Regions from separate parts of the Homo sapiens genome. Here regions 2 and 3 are each linked to region 1. Evidence: fine-mapped expression QTL. A gene starts in region 1. Each other region holds a variant in brackets. All regions are shown on one strand. Distances are between the middles of the regions.

The links. PIP is the estimated chance that this variant, and not a neighbour inherited with it, causes the effect. A credible set is the group of variants that fine-mapping cannot tell apart.
Region 2: its variant is the best candidate, but not a certain one, in a credible set for the expression of PDE1C in fibroblasts (GTEx, PIP 0.51).
Region 3: its variant is the best candidate, but not a certain one, in a credible set for the expression of PDE1C in subcutaneous fat (GTEx, PIP 0.77).

What each region holds. Positions count from the first base shown.
Region 1 is chr7:32,068,313-32,073,312 of GRCh38, reverse strand. PDE1C (phosphodiesterase 1C) reads left to right here and starts at 2,906. Exons shown (of 18, transcript NM_001191057.4): 1 at 2,906-3,020. The coding sequence starts at 2,920.
Region 2 is chr7:32,025,309-32,030,308 of GRCh38, reverse strand. All of the region lies in intron 2 of PDE1C (phosphodiesterase 1C), which reads left to right. Among named protein-coding and RNA genes, the nearest start is that of PDE1C, 43 kb to the left of the region's middle. The variant A/G (reference allele first, on the strand shown) is at 2,009.
Region 3 is chr7:32,318,200-32,323,199 of GRCh38, reverse strand. It overlaps a transcript of PDE1C not described here. Among named protein-coding and RNA genes, the nearest start is that of LSM5, 170 kb to the left of the region's middle. The variant A/G (reference allele first, on the strand shown) is at 2,193.

The sequences.
Region 1 (5,000 bases):
TTTTCCTGACTTTCTAATACACATTAATTTTGTAAGAAATTTTCTCAAATGAAACAAAATCTAGCTTCAAAAACTTAAAAAAAATGTTTTTGCTCTTTTCTCTCTGATTTGCTTAATTGCAGCAAAAGTCGATTTCTTTCCTTTTTCTTCCAAAATTTGCTTTTCTCTGACAATCAAAATTCCACTAAGAGTAGGAAAAAGTCATAGATGTGGTATGGAGTGAAAGGTAAGTATCATGCTTAATATTCCTTTGTATATTTTCATCCTAGGCCAGTACTTAGAGAAACTATGACATAGTTAAAATGTGAATTCAGCATTATTCGTCTCTCTTTTCAGCAATTTCTTTTTCCAAGTCTCTCCAGATGACCTCAATGAATCATAAAGCTGAAAACAACATAAAAATATTTTTGCCTAAATGTATCACTTTATAGATGTGGAAAATGGGACTCTGTGAGGGGGATGTATTTGTATAGGATAAGGTAATCAGCCATAACTCAAACTCTGGTCTTTTCTAGTTCAGTTTTCTCTCTAGTTGGTCTAGGAAGCCTCCTGGTGCTTCAGTTTTCTTACTGTAAAATGGGGATGATAATAATAGTATCTACCTCATAGAATAGTCTCGAGTATTACATGAGAGTAGAACACTTAGAACAATGCTTGGGCTATGGAAAGTTTCTGACACTTGTTTGCTGTTATTATCATTATTGTACTTCCACATGGTGCCAGCAGGCTGCCCAAGGTGCACACACTAATGGAAATACCCCATTTGGGGACCATGCTGCTGTCTTCCATTCTCAAAACACGTCACTATAAAAATTTCCTCTTGTGACATTCTATTTCCCCAGGGCACTGTTTCTCTGCTGGGTGACACTGGAAGGGTAATTGGTTTTATTCAGATAGATGAACTCCATGTTAAAATATTGCTTAATGTTACCATTGCCTAGTAATAATACCTTAACTCAGTGAAAATATATGCGCCTCCATAAACCTTAAAAGGCTGCCTTTAATGGGGCGACTTCAGATTTACCTGGCAGGTGAGTAGGTAAGTCGTTTTTCATCAAACAGGTCTTTTGTCTTACCTTGAGTTACTACCTTCTCTGCTAGAATGCATGGGGCCAGCCAAGCATCCTCATCACTCTCACCTCTAAGTTCTGGAAAATGAATGCCAATTATGAAGTGGGTGAGCATTTATGATTTAGAGACCATTTTATTCCTTTGTTAAGGTCAGGTGAATGGAACTTTACTTGAGCAGTGAAGAGAAACTAGTCCTCACTTCTAAGTTTATCATGCTTTTGGGAAGCAGGTAATCATCTAATAGATAGGAAAATAATTCTGAGAGTGTGATGGAAAGAAGTATTACCTGTCATTGAGGAAAAATACTGTATAGGGCATGCCCCACCCTGAATCTCAGGAACCCTGAGAGCCAGGTTTGAAATAGCCCCTGGTGGTGGCTTCACCTAGAAGGAAGTTTGACGGACCCTTCTGTGATGTCGCTTGCAATCATCTTGGGCATGGATTCCCCCAGTCTTTGGTTCCTCTCTTCATCTGTCCTCCCTCCCTGACTCCCAACTTCATACCTGGTCCCGTTCTTCCAGAGCATTCTACCTTATTGACATTGTTCATGAACTAGGGGAACCCTGACAGTGAGTTGCAGCTTTGTGGAGCTGAAACTTTGTCACCATCCACAGCCGCCCAGCCAGCACCCAGGAGGGACCCTCTTGAGTAGCGTGTGATATTGATCTGAAGAAACTTACCTCCTCACTATTGGTATATTTTCTCCTTTTCTTCCGCACAAGAGAGAGAGATGGGGGTGGGGGGGTGAAAGGGAGGGAGGGAGGGAATGAGGGAGGAGAGAGAGCGCGAGCGAGAGAGCCCCTTTAGCAAGAAAACATCAAGAGTTTTTGAGTGTGGTGTGTGGTTCCCTTCGTCCCCATCAGTCGCTTCAATATTTCAAAATGGATCCGGTTCTGTGGCGGGTGCGAGAGTGAGGCTGTGGGGGACCTCCAGGCCCAACCTCCGCGAAGCCTCGCGGCTTCTGCGTGCCCTGGCCCCGGGAGGATAAGGATTTCCCTTCCCTCCTACTTGCGCGCGGAGCCGAGCTCTTGTTGAGGTGAGGGTTCCGGAAGCCCACGCAGCTCCGCAGGTCGGTGGTGGCCGCGGCTGCCCTGCGGGGGTGAGTGTGCCCGGCCGGGGTCGGAGCCCAGCGTGTGCCCGGCAGACGGCGGTGCCCGCGCGCCCCTCCCTCCGCGCCCGCGGTGACAGCCCAGACACCAGCCCGGGCGCTGACAGACGACTTTTCTCACTTGTCAGTTTTCTCGCTTGTCAGCAGAGCTGCTGGTAAGTGAGAGAAAACAGAGGGGCGCGAAGGCAGGCGCGGCCAGGGAGTGAGCGGGGCGCTGGGCGCGGGGCGGAGCCGGGTGCGCGGCGTCCGGGTCAGGCCCCACCGCCCGCGCCGGCTCCCGCTTTGCTCAGCCGCCGCTTTTCTCTCCCTTCTCACTTTCTCTCCTCCCCACCCAGCCCTCCTTTTCACCTCCAAACCCTTTAGCTGCGCGCTGATCGCTTCTGTGGCTTTGTTTGGGGGTAGGGGGAGAATACGAATAGACCCGAGGTGCTTTCTCTTGGAGCTGGAGTCCAATCCCAATCCCTATCTCTATCCCTATCCCTGTGCTTATCCCTGGGCATTAGCCCGGGACCATGGCTGGTTCCCGCAGCTGCCTCCGGAGCGCACCTGGGGCCATGGTTTGCCGCGATCGGAGTCCGCTCTAAGTCGGAGTCTGGGGGCGCAGAAGGGGGAGCGCGCCGAGAAAGTGCCGGGCAAACGCGCGCCGCGCCTGGCTGGGCATCGCGAGCTGGGCGAGGAGACGGGGAGGGGACAGCCCAAACTATCTCAGCTTCACCGCCAGTGGTCACCTACCTGCAGCTATGGAGTCGCCAACCAAGGAGATTGAAGAATTTGAGAGCAACTCTCTGAAATACCTGCAACCGGAACAGATCGAGAAAATCTGGCTTCGGCTCCGCGGGCTGTAAGTATACCTATTTACTTCTCCTGCCCCATTTCCCGCTCCCATCCTTATTTTACCACACAGCCGCAGTCACGACTGCTCACCCTGTTCCTGCATGGGCCTTTAAATACAACCCTAGAAGTTCCACAACTGCTGCTCTGTTAATTACAGTCACTGCTACTTTTCTTCCAACACAGAGAGGGTTGTCTTTCTGTCTTAGAATGCCTTGCTGTTCCAAGTCATGCTTTTTTGGGGGGAAGGAGAGATGTCCTTTGATGAGTCAGTTATGGTGGCCCAATACTCAATGAGGTGTTTCTGATCCTTTTTGCCCAGGGAGAAAAGTTTGAGACCCAGACAGGGACTTTTAATTGAAGGAAGAATTTTTCTCTGCAAACTGCTTGCATACACTTGGGCAGGTGGTCCAAGAACTTACCAACAGTTAAAATTCAACATGCATTCTGGCTGCTACATTTCTTTTTTCCCTCTCCTTAGCCCAGTCGAACTTCTGATATTTCCTGGGGTTCTTTTTGGTGGAGAAATGTTTACTAGAAGGAAAGGCTCTTGTGGAGAAAGGGGGGGCAGAAACGATATTGGGGTTTTCTTGCAATATTTGAACAATGAAATAGAGTGGCCAGAATTCTAGTTGCCCTGATGGATGGAGATCTCTGAATTTCATTCACTTCATTGGGTTCTGTCTGTTTTTGGGTACTGAGGAGAGGTGACCTGAAAATACATGGTATTTTCTGTAAAAATATTTCATCATCAGTGAACTGCTGGTCACTCCAGTCAGGAGCTTGAGGGATAGCTGTATATTCACAGCTTGCTCCTCAGTCACTGGGCAGGTCCCAAAGACACCTTCCATTACTACTAGATACTACTTTCATCAGTCATTTGGCATCAGATATCTAGTGTGGTTTAAAAATATGGCTTTTCTCCAAGCATATTCTCTAGACATTCTGTTTCTAACAAGGGCACTGATGGGAAAACCAGCTTCCTGCCAGTTTGTTTGTTTTGCTGCTGTTATTGTTTTTGAAAGCACACACACAAACAAAAGACAAATAAAAAATGTGTTGATCTAAGTTAGCTTGATATTCAAAGTTTCTAAGGAGAAGCATTAAGGTAGTATGTGTTTCTTTAAGGGGTCCTTATTGACAGGTGCAATTTATAAAAGCCATTCCATATATAGTCCAAGTGAGCTTCATTGCCATTGATTTCAATGGGAAACCATGCCAAATAATTTGATTTTTGACTTGTCTAGCCACCGCTAGTGGAGACTGTAAATTTATTTGGAAACCTTGTCTCTGGCTGGCAGGCTTTCCTGACAGTTTAGATGCCTGCAACGCAGCAGCTCTCGGAGTGGTGTTTACAGTAATCTCATGTTATATTTAGTGAACATTACGTCCGATTGTATTGTGCTGCACACAGAAAGTTTGTTGTGTCCACAAAGTCTGGGCCCAAAGTGTATAATGTGAAAGCGTTGTCGAGCTGGATTCCTTGCCATGCTGACTAGAGGGATTCATATCCATACACCCAGGAACTTCTTCTCTTGGACTGCTTTTCAATTTAAACCGACTCCATGGAGACATTTGGGCTAGAGACAAGTGTTTGGTCAAATCAGCAATGCTGAGGCGGGAACTTGTGTGGAAAAGCATTAGCACTTACAACACTGCGTCGTGTAGCTTTCTCAGTTTCATATCTGCTAGGCTTCTCTCTCCAAGGTGTTGCAGTGTAATGTAACTACATTTTCATTTTCTAGTCTCTTGTATCTACTCAGAACCTAGTGCTTTTGAACATGAAAAGTGTGGGGTGATTATAGCTTCACTTTCTAATTTGAAAAGGAGATGCTATTATTTGTTATTATTATACATATTTTTACCAGTATGTGATCCTTACCACTTCTTCTTCTTCTTCTTTTTAAACATAACAGCAGTGCTAGAATAAATAGCTAAAGACTCTGGAAACCAAAGCACACACTCTTTTATACAACTTGGAATAACATTT
Region 2 (5,000 bases), 43 kb after region 1:
TTTGAGGGTGTGTACTATTGTTTTAAAATCATTCTTTTTCTCTAAGTAAAATCTGAATACATTTTCTTTATTAAAAAAATACTACTGAGAAGACCAAAGTGTCCAGTCTTCTTTGATTCCTCCTCTATCCCCACAACCAACTTATCCCAGGTTCCTCCTGAGAGATTATAGCTATTGTCACTTTGTGTGTGTGTGTGTGTGTGTGTGTGTGTGTGTGTGTGTGTGTGTGTTATAATATGCATTTTTCAGCAACTTGCTTTTTCACTCACCCGTAGCTTGGATATTTTTCTATGTCAGCTCATAGAAATGTACCTCTTTTTAAAAAGTTTACAGTATGGCTAAATCACGGTTAATTGGGATGTTCTCTTAATGATAGGCACTTAAGTTGTTTCGAGTTCTTTACTGTGATAAATAATGTTGCAGCAATATAAGAAGGCTCATTATTGTGTTTATTAAGGGACAGTCTTTAAAATGCACAAATGTATTGGCTAAACTCTGCTTTCTATCTCTTTCAGATGTATTGGTGCATGTAATCAATGTTCATTGCCTTGAAAATCCCTTTTACAACATTTACACAATTTTTTAAACCTAGGTTGCATTACCTGTTTGGGTGAAAGTCATTGAATGTGGGAATCCTGCTCTTAAACTCGATGCCTTGAGGTAATTTCTATGACCTGCTGTGATATTTTCCCCTCCCTTCTTTCTTTCCTCTCTGCCTTCTTTCCTCTCCTCCCACCCCTCACTACACTTACCTCCACTCTTGTTGCAGACCCTAGATGGCTTTGCACCTATTATTTCTTGATTTATTCTATCACAAAGATAAACTTTAGTTGAGAAATTCTTTGTTTTTCCAAACAGTGTGAAAAGGTTGATTCCGTAACTTGGCTATTGTGAATAGAGCTGCATTGAACATGGGAGTGCAGGTATTTCTTTGACAAGATGATTTCAAATCCTTTGGATAAATACTAGGAAGTAGGATTGCTGGATCATATGGTAGTTGTATTTTTAGTTTTTTGAGGAACCTCTGTATAGTTTTCCATAATGGCTGTACTGTACTAATTTACATTCCTGCCAACAATGTATAAGGATTTCCTTTTTTCTCCATCTGAGATGATATCTCATTGTGGTTTTATTTTGCATTTCCCTAATAATTAACAATGTGAATTTGTTTTTGCATGTATTTGTTGGTCACTTGTATGTCTTCATTGGAGAAATATCTATTTAGGTCCCTTGCCCATTTTTAAATTAGGCTTTTTGTTTTTTTGCTATTGAATTGTTTGAGCTCCTTATATATTTTGGATATTAATACCTTATCTGATGTATGGCTTGCAAATGTTTTCTCCAAGTCTGTAGATTGTCTCCGTACCTTGTTAATTGTTTCCACTTAGATGTGGAATCTAAAACAACGAAGCTCATAGAAGCAGATAATAGAATGGTGGCTACAGAGGCTGGGGGGAAGGGAAGGAATGGGGAATTGATGGTTAGAGGTTACAAAATCTCAGTTACACAGGAGGAATTTTTTTGAAATCGATTGCACAGTGTAGTGAATATAGTTAATAATATTGTACATTTCAAAATTGCTAAGAGGGTAAATTTCTAACGTTCTTACCACAAAAAAAATTAAGTATTTAAGGTGATGGATATGTTAACTAGCTTGATTTAATTATTCCACATTGTTTTCATAAATTATAACATCACTTTGTACCCCATAAATATATATAATTACAAATAGTCAATATGTAATAAAAATTAAGATAAAGAAATGGGAAGGATATATACTGGAAATAAATTAGTAATAATAATAATAACAATAAGAAACTGAAGTTGAGCTGGTTTTCACATTGGCATAGAGCTTAATCTTTCTTATGGTTTGCATAGATTGAAGGTGTGACTCAAGCACTGTTACTGCTGACTCTGGTGAACCTCCAGTAGTAGGAATAATGAAGCATATGAAGAGACTTTGTGTGTTTGAATGAATAAATACATATTTGAAAGGGAGAAGCTTGGG[A/G]CCTGTTAGATTTACACTGGAAGTCTAGATCTGCTGTTCAATATGGTAACCACTAGCCACATGTGGCTCTTGAGCCCTTGGAATGTGGCTACCATGGTCACATGTTAAAATGATAAATAATTGAGTCTATTAGTTAAATACAATATGCTCTTAATTTCAGTTGTTTATTTTATAAAACATGACTACTTAGAAAATTTTAAATTATGTCTGCAATTCAGGGTGTCTTGCTGTTGGACAGCCCTGCTCTAGCTGTCAATCAGGAGGAAGACTGGCAGTGAGCCAGGATTGATTTTGCATCATCCTGTTTATTAGAGACATACTTAAGTTCTAATCCCACCTTTAGTACCTAAAGGTGATTAAGTCTGAATCCCAAGAAGACTTGCCTATGCTTTTTTTCTGATTGGTTTTTGAAGATTTAATATGATTTCAGTGTAAGGCTTGCTACATCAGATTTTTTTGTTGTTGTTGCTTTGGAAACATCAAATGAAGAATTTGAGGAAAATGGCAATCACTAGATTAGCCTAATAGACAGCAGATTTTTTTAAAAGTTTTTTTTTTTGCAGTCATTTGTAACGCAGCTCATAACAGTCAGGCTCATCTTGGTAGAGGATCAGAGTGGTGATTTTTGATTGATAAAAATTTCTTCCCATTAGTCTTTTTTTTTTTTTTTTTTTTTTTTTTTTTTTTTTTTTTACCATTTTTGATAGTTTTTTTTTTTTCTGCCTTTGCAAAGAAAATTGAAGCAGTGGCATTCCATTTGTGGTGAATTTGGAATCTTATGTTTTTCCATGTTGGTAAATTTAGCATTCTTCTAGAATGCTATAACTTGGTATCTATTTAAACACACATATAAGCACAAACAAACAGAAACCCACACAATACACCATTAAGTTTGCATGTCAACATATTTTTGATTTGACTTTTGTCAGTCTCTGAAGATTTTTGTTTTAATCAATAGGCTTTATTTTGTAGAGCAGTTTTAGGTTTACAGCAAAAGTGAGAGGAAGGTACAGATATTTTTCCATAATAACCCCCATCCCCACATGTGCAGCTTCCCCCACTGTCAGCATCGCCCACCAGGGTGGAGCATTTGTTACAATCAATGAACCTACATTGACAGATCATTCTCGCCCGAAGTTCAGAGTATGTATTATGATTCACTTTGGGTCATGTACATTCTACAGGTTTGGAAAAATTTATAATGAAATGTATCTATTATCGTTGTGTTATACAAAGCAATTTCACTGCCCTGAAAACTCTCTGTGCTCTGCCTATTCAACTTTTCCTCCTCCAAACCCCTGGCAATTACTAATCCTTTTACTGTCTCCATAGTGTTATACTTTCCAGAATGTCATATAGTTGGAATCATACAGCATATAGCCTTTTCAGATTTGGTTCTTCCACTCAGCAATATGTATTCATGTTTTCTCTATGTCTTTTCATAGCTTGATGTTCTCTTTTTTTTAATTTTTAGTGCTGGATTATTTTCCACTGTCTAGATGTACCACAGTTTGTTTAACCATTCACCTATAAAAGGACATCTTGGTTGCTTCCAAGTTTTGGCAATTATGAATAAAGCTGCCATTTTTTGTGGACCTGAGTTTTCATTTTATCTGAGTAAATTCCAAGGAATATATGATTCCCAGATCTGATGTTAAGAGTGTGTTTAGTTTTGAAGGAATCTGCCAAACTGTCTTTTAAAGTGGCTGTACCATTTTGCATTCCTACCAGCAATGAGGGAGAGTTCCTATTGCTCCACATCCTCTACAGCATTTGGTGTTGCCAGGGTTTTGTATTTTGGCCGTTGTAATAGGTGTGCAATGGTGAAGACTGTCTTAATATGGCCAAATCAGTGGTTCAGTTGGAATTCTCTTGTCTCAGCAGAATGGACCGAGGTATGTTCTTGATGTTCTGAGATCGACAGTGAATGTCTTCTGTGGTTGCTACTGAGGGATAAGAGAAGATGGCAGACCAGAGGATGGATTACCAGCATTTCATCTAAAACTATAAGCTGCAGCCAGCTTTGCCCCATGTGCCTATTGTGTAGGCTGTGGGGCTGGCAACCAAAGAAGTGGGAATGCTGAGTCTAAGCCAGAAAAAATTCAGTTCAGTCCAAACTCTAATTATCTTGGAGGCAGCCTTTGTTCCATTTGGTGGTTGATTCATTCCGAGCATGGTTTCTGAATTTTACTGGGGAGAGTGCACGCGTGTGTGTGTATGTGTGTATGTGTGTGCATGCACACGCTTGTGTGTGAGGTGTGGAAATATTGGTTACCTCAACAGGCAGCTTTTGTTTTCTGATAGCAGCTTGTGTAACCAGCTGTCAGGTAGAGGGGCCTCATTAGCAGAGCAGATTCCTGGGAAGGTCTTACAAGGAACAGACGCTGCCAGCACGTGGTTGGCCTGAAAAGGCACAGCTAGGTAGGTGCTCTGCTCCTCTTCCTTATGATCAAAGAGAGAAGATGCTCCCCTGTGAACAGAGAAGTGGAGCAGGGACACTATCTTCACTGTATGACCTCTGGCTGTATGTACAGATAGAGCACTCCATTCATGACATGGACGCTCAGTAAGTAATTATGGGCATGTCAGTTTGAGCCAGCCAGTAACTGATCTTAACATCCTCTCCCTGCTGTGGCAAAATCCTGACCATGGCAAACCTAGCTCTTCGTCTCATTTATGATGCTGGTAGGACTTGCTTGCTCAGAGCTGCTGCTCTCACTTTTTCTGGCACTGCCCACTCCTCCCAGCCTCCTCAGGTTTTCTGTCCAGTCTTGGAAACGTCAACCAGCCTTGCTGGGATCAGCTTCTCATGTTCCTGAGCAGTGTCCTTCAGCTGTTTAGCAATGTCTTCAAGCCCCAAATACATACATGCTCCTAATTATAGTCTGCATGCCCCACTGGTTTCTGCTAATCCCCCTACCCTCAACTCCCACTCCAGCTCGTCTCTACACCCATCTGGACCCTGGCCTTGGGTTTCAAGCTGTTACTTGTG
Region 3 (5,000 bases), 250 kb before region 1:
ACAACATTCTTTGTAAACCCAGGAAAAGTTATTCTTTAAGTTATGATACAATCCTGCTCATGGATCTACAGAATGGTAGAGCTAGGAGAAATTTGATGTTACATGTCACTTTAGTTGGCTAAACTAAAAAATGCCTTAAATCTCTCCCCACCCCTGTATCTTCCTGAGAAATTCCTACCAGACCCTCCCAGTCTTTGTTGGTCCCTTTCCTCAAACCACTGAAGCATAGCAACCCTTTGTGTCACCTTCTGATTACATCTGTCTTTTTGTAAAAAAATAGAGATGGGAGGCTGGGCATGGTGGCTCACGCCTGTAATCCCAGCACTTTGGGAGGCCAAGGAGGGTGGATTTGAGGTCAGGGGTTCAAGACCATCCTGGCCAAGATGCTGAAACCCCGTCTTTACTAAAAATACAAAATTAGCCAGGTGTGGTGGCAGGCGCCTGTATTCCCAGCTACTTGGGAGGCTGAGGCAGGAAATTGCTTAAACCCAGGAGGCGGAGGTTGCAGTGAGCCAAGATTATGTCACTGCACTCCAGCCTGCGTGAGAGAGCAAGACTCCATCTCAAAAAAAAAAAAAAGAAAAAAGAAAAAAATAGAGATGGGATCTTGCTCTGTCACCCAGGCTGGAGTGCAGCGGTGTGATCATAGCTTACTGCATCCTTGAACTCCTGGGCTCAAGTGATTCTCCTGCCTCAGGCTTCTGAGTAGCTGGGACTACAGGTATGCACCACCAGGCCTGGCTAACTTCTTTTTTACGTGTGTAGAGATGGCGTCTTTCTGTGTTGCCCAAGCTCGTCTCAAACTCCTGGTCTCAAGTGATCCTCCTGCTTCGGCCTCCCAAAGTGCTGGTTTTGGGAGGCATGTAGGTCACTGTGCCTGGCTAACATGTCTGTCTTTTATTCAATTATGAGCTTTTTGAACGTGGGCCAGGAATGGCTGCTGTAGAGTAGTGATTAATTGCCAAGGCTCTAGAGCCAGGCTATCTGTGTTCAAATTCTTGTTTTATCACTTATAATCTGAGTAACCCTGAGCAAGTTACTGGATAGCTCAGTTTACTTCATCTGTAGAATTAGGGTAATAGTAGGACATTCCTTATAGAGTATAAGGACTAAATAAATTAATATACATAAAAGTTCCTAGACCACACCTTCCCCTAGTAGGCCTTCAGTGAATTCAACTATTATTACTACTCGTTTTGTCTTTAGTTCCCATCATAGCATCTGGTGCATGTCACATAGCACACATTTAATACATTTAATGTACTTATTACATGCTAATTATGTGAGCAAAAGTGCAAACAGAGGTAGAGAAGAAGTGATCTTTGTGGGCTGGATTAAGGAGATTTGAACAACTGATCGGGTTTGAAATGGGAACTTCTAGGGTTTGTAGAATGTGGATAGATAGGTGGATTAATTCAGGAAGCATTCGTAGAAAAAACCCTGCCCTGGGAAATTTATGCCAGTTGGTAAGTATAGAAACTGAATGTGAAAAATAAATCAGCATTAAGCTGATTACATCTCAAGTTAGTAGCAGACCTGCTATCAAAATTCCATCTCTCTCCTCCCCAGTGTCTGCTGAAGTTTTAGGAATATAATGGATTTTAATTAATTGAACAATTCACTTGAAGAGAAGCAGGAAGAAGTCAGGAATGTTCCTTAACTCTGGGGCATCTATTTTATGCATACTGGAGAAATTAAGATAACAGAGTAACACTCCCACAGCCACCCAAAAGTAAGGGGCATCTATTTTATGCATGCTGGAGAAATTAACATAGTAGAGTAATATTCCCACAGCCACCCAAAAGTAATTTTACAATGGTTTAGAGATTCCAACCCCTTGATTCTTCTCCTCCTACATTTATTGTCATTTTGCCTTTCATAAATTGTTCTTCCTTTTGAAACTCATCTGCGCTGTGTTTTTGTAAATCAAAGCCGGGCTAACAATGCAGGCTCTGCTCTGTGATTGTGCTTAAAGAGAGGCTGTATCACAAAAGAAATGAGGGGTCTTAATTTGTCTTTTTTAAGGACCTGCATAGTTATTGAGGTTGGTGTAATTCTCTTTGAGATTTTTGTTCTTTTGTCACTGAGCGATTGTTCTTCAGCTGATGAGAGTAGATCAGAGCAAGAGATGGGGGACTGCTGTATCACAGGGATCAGGATTGGATTGTGAGATTCACCTTCGTTCTCTCCCC[A/G]TTCCAAAATTGGTGGCCTGAATCAGGACTCTGTAGTGGGTGACCTAGGTCTGTGATGCACATTTTATTTTGAGTCTCACTTTACTCCTCTGTAAACGGGGATTATGACACATACCTCCCTGTCAAGTGGTCGTGGGTTTCAGGAAGATGCAGCTCTGGTGACAATATAGGACAGAGCCCTAGGGGCTTAGTAGGTGCTCAATAAATGCTTCTTTCCTTGCTCTGCTTTTCTAAGTTTCTTTCCCTGAGAGGCTCAATGTGTTTATATGAATAGTGGAATTTTCCTTAAGCATATTTAAATTGACATGGACATATGAAAATTAACACATATGTGAAACTTTTATTTTGCTTATGTGGAAGTGTGTGTGTGTGTGTGTGTGTGTGTATGTGTGTGCCTAAGCACCTGGTGGGGGCACATGCAGTTGAAAGTGTGACAATATTCCTAGAACAATTCCTTGCATAATCCCTTTAACTCTACCTTTTTCCCCCCACTTTTAAGTTCAGGGGTACATGTGCAGGATGTGCAGGTTTGTTATATAGGTAAACGTGTGCCATGGTGGTTTGCCGCACAGATCACCCCATCATTCAGGTATGAAGCCCAGCATCTATTAGCTATTCTTCCTGATGCTCTCCCTCCTCCCACTCCTCCCACAGGCCCCAGTGTGTGTTGTTCCCCAGTTCTACCTGTTTTCCCCCCTTCCATCAATAAAGCAAATCGACTAACCAAGAGGATAGAAAACCCTTGATATTTGTTACAAGCATGATACTTAAAATTCAAAATATACAAGCAGTGGTCATTGTAAAAATATACTGCACATACAAAATGAAACACAAACCTTAGTAAACTTTACAAAATGTTATTACAAATAAGGATTTGGTGAGGCAAAAATCTGTCAGTTGGTAGTGTGGGGAACTGCTGTGTGACAAATTAATGTTCACTGAATTGGCTTCAAGTTGCCCCACCTATCCCCTCCCCAATTTGGCTGTGTCGTAGGCAGGGAAGCTTTGCTCTGTCCCTAAGACCGTGGGACTCTGGGACCTCTTTTATCCATCCCACTCATTTTTGGACTTTGAGATAAGTAATTTTTACCTATCTATGTTCAAGGGGCATAAAAACTATACAAAACAGAGGGAAAATACTTTTAGTCAACATGAAATAGGTGCAATTACACACTATCTTAAGAAAAATGTCTGTAGGAGCAATTTCACTTCAGAATCCATTTGACTTTTCAGCCTTCATACCCAGAGCGGTCGCTGTTGGGAAGAAGAAAAGTGCAGAGACCTATTGAAGACAGGGTTCCAAGCCTGCTGCTTCTGAGCTCTGTGACCTTGAGCAGATTACATAAGCTGAGTTTGTGTTTCCACCTGAAAGGTGGGAGTCACTGTAACTCCTCACAGAGTTGTGGCAAATGGCATTCTATAGCAGAGTTTGGCCTACTTTTCCCGTTTTGCCTCCCCTAGACCATGGCCCTCAGGATGCAGGAACATGTGTCAGGTGGGGATCAATCCAGGGGCCTGGGGGAGATCCCCTAACTTTCCCAGCTGGTTCTCCGGTGATGGCTTGCCCACGGCCCAATGGCTCCAGTCCCTTCTCGTGCTGGCTGGAGGGAGAAGAGTCAACAGCACCCAAGGGCACAGATGCCATCACTGGGGGAGTGTAGCAGAGCCCTTGGGAACACCAAGTCAAGGGGCAGGGGCAGGGTGGAAGGCCCGCCATGAAAGGGCTGGGCAGGGAGCGCACAGGAGCAAAAGTCAGGCAGAGGAGCTAGTGAAGTGTCCGAAAACGGTCTCCAAGCACGTGGCGCTCTGGTCATCTCCCTGCACCTCACAGATCACGTTTAGTTTCTTTACGGAAAGAGGCAGGCGTCGGGAGCAGGGAGGCTGCGGAGGACTGCAGCTCCCGGGTGACGGCGTGGAGGGCGCGGGAGAACGAGGGACATGGGTCAAATCCTCCCGCCTGCTTCCTCTGCCCTTGCAACAGCTTAAGGGAGCACGGACGTGACAATCACCACCGGTTCTTTTGAAATGATGAGAAACCAAGTCTCAATGCACCAACGCTGATTTCAGCCATTGCGGAGCGAAGATTTAAGTCCAGCCCTCCCGAACCTCAGTCCAGAGCCTGGAGTTTCCTAAGCGTTTCCAGTGCCAGAGCCCCAGCCAGGAAGTGAGCCGTGTCGCCCTTCCCGTAGAGGTCTTGGTCACACAGAAGGCCTCTGCCGTGGCTCTTTTTGTAGGTAGATACGCGGGCAAATGTAATGCATCTTAATGTCCTCGTGACCAACTCTGTCGTGATTTCTCGCTTTATTCCTGCTCACGCGCGCAGCCCTTCACCCATGTCACCGCTGGCAGACAGAGGCACCTGCGTCCTGGTGAAAAGACACCACGCTGCCCAAGAAGGCTTGTGCAGTTTTCAGAAAACTCCCCGCTCGCAGGTCCCCTTTCACTTCTTCTGGGTCCCTGGCCACCACACCCTTTTGTGTTCCTACTGCCCTTCTGTGCGTGGCGGGCACCCAGCCAGCGGTGCAGGCTGTAAGCACAGCTGTGTAGACCGCGGCGGAGGGAGAGCCGCTCCCTAGAGGGCGAGATTTGGGCAGGAAGAGCCCGTGTTTTCCCAAAATGAGGTTCCTGGTGCTTGGGCTGAGCGGTTTGGGGAATGTTTAGAGGGAGGGAACCCCTCGAAACATGGTGAGGCCATTCGGGGTTTGGAGGGATTTTATCACACTCAGAAGGGGGGTTTGGTTTGGATTCTACGTATCCACAAGTTGCCCCTAGGTGTGGGGCCCTGGCAGCTGTGGAATGTTGCTAGAG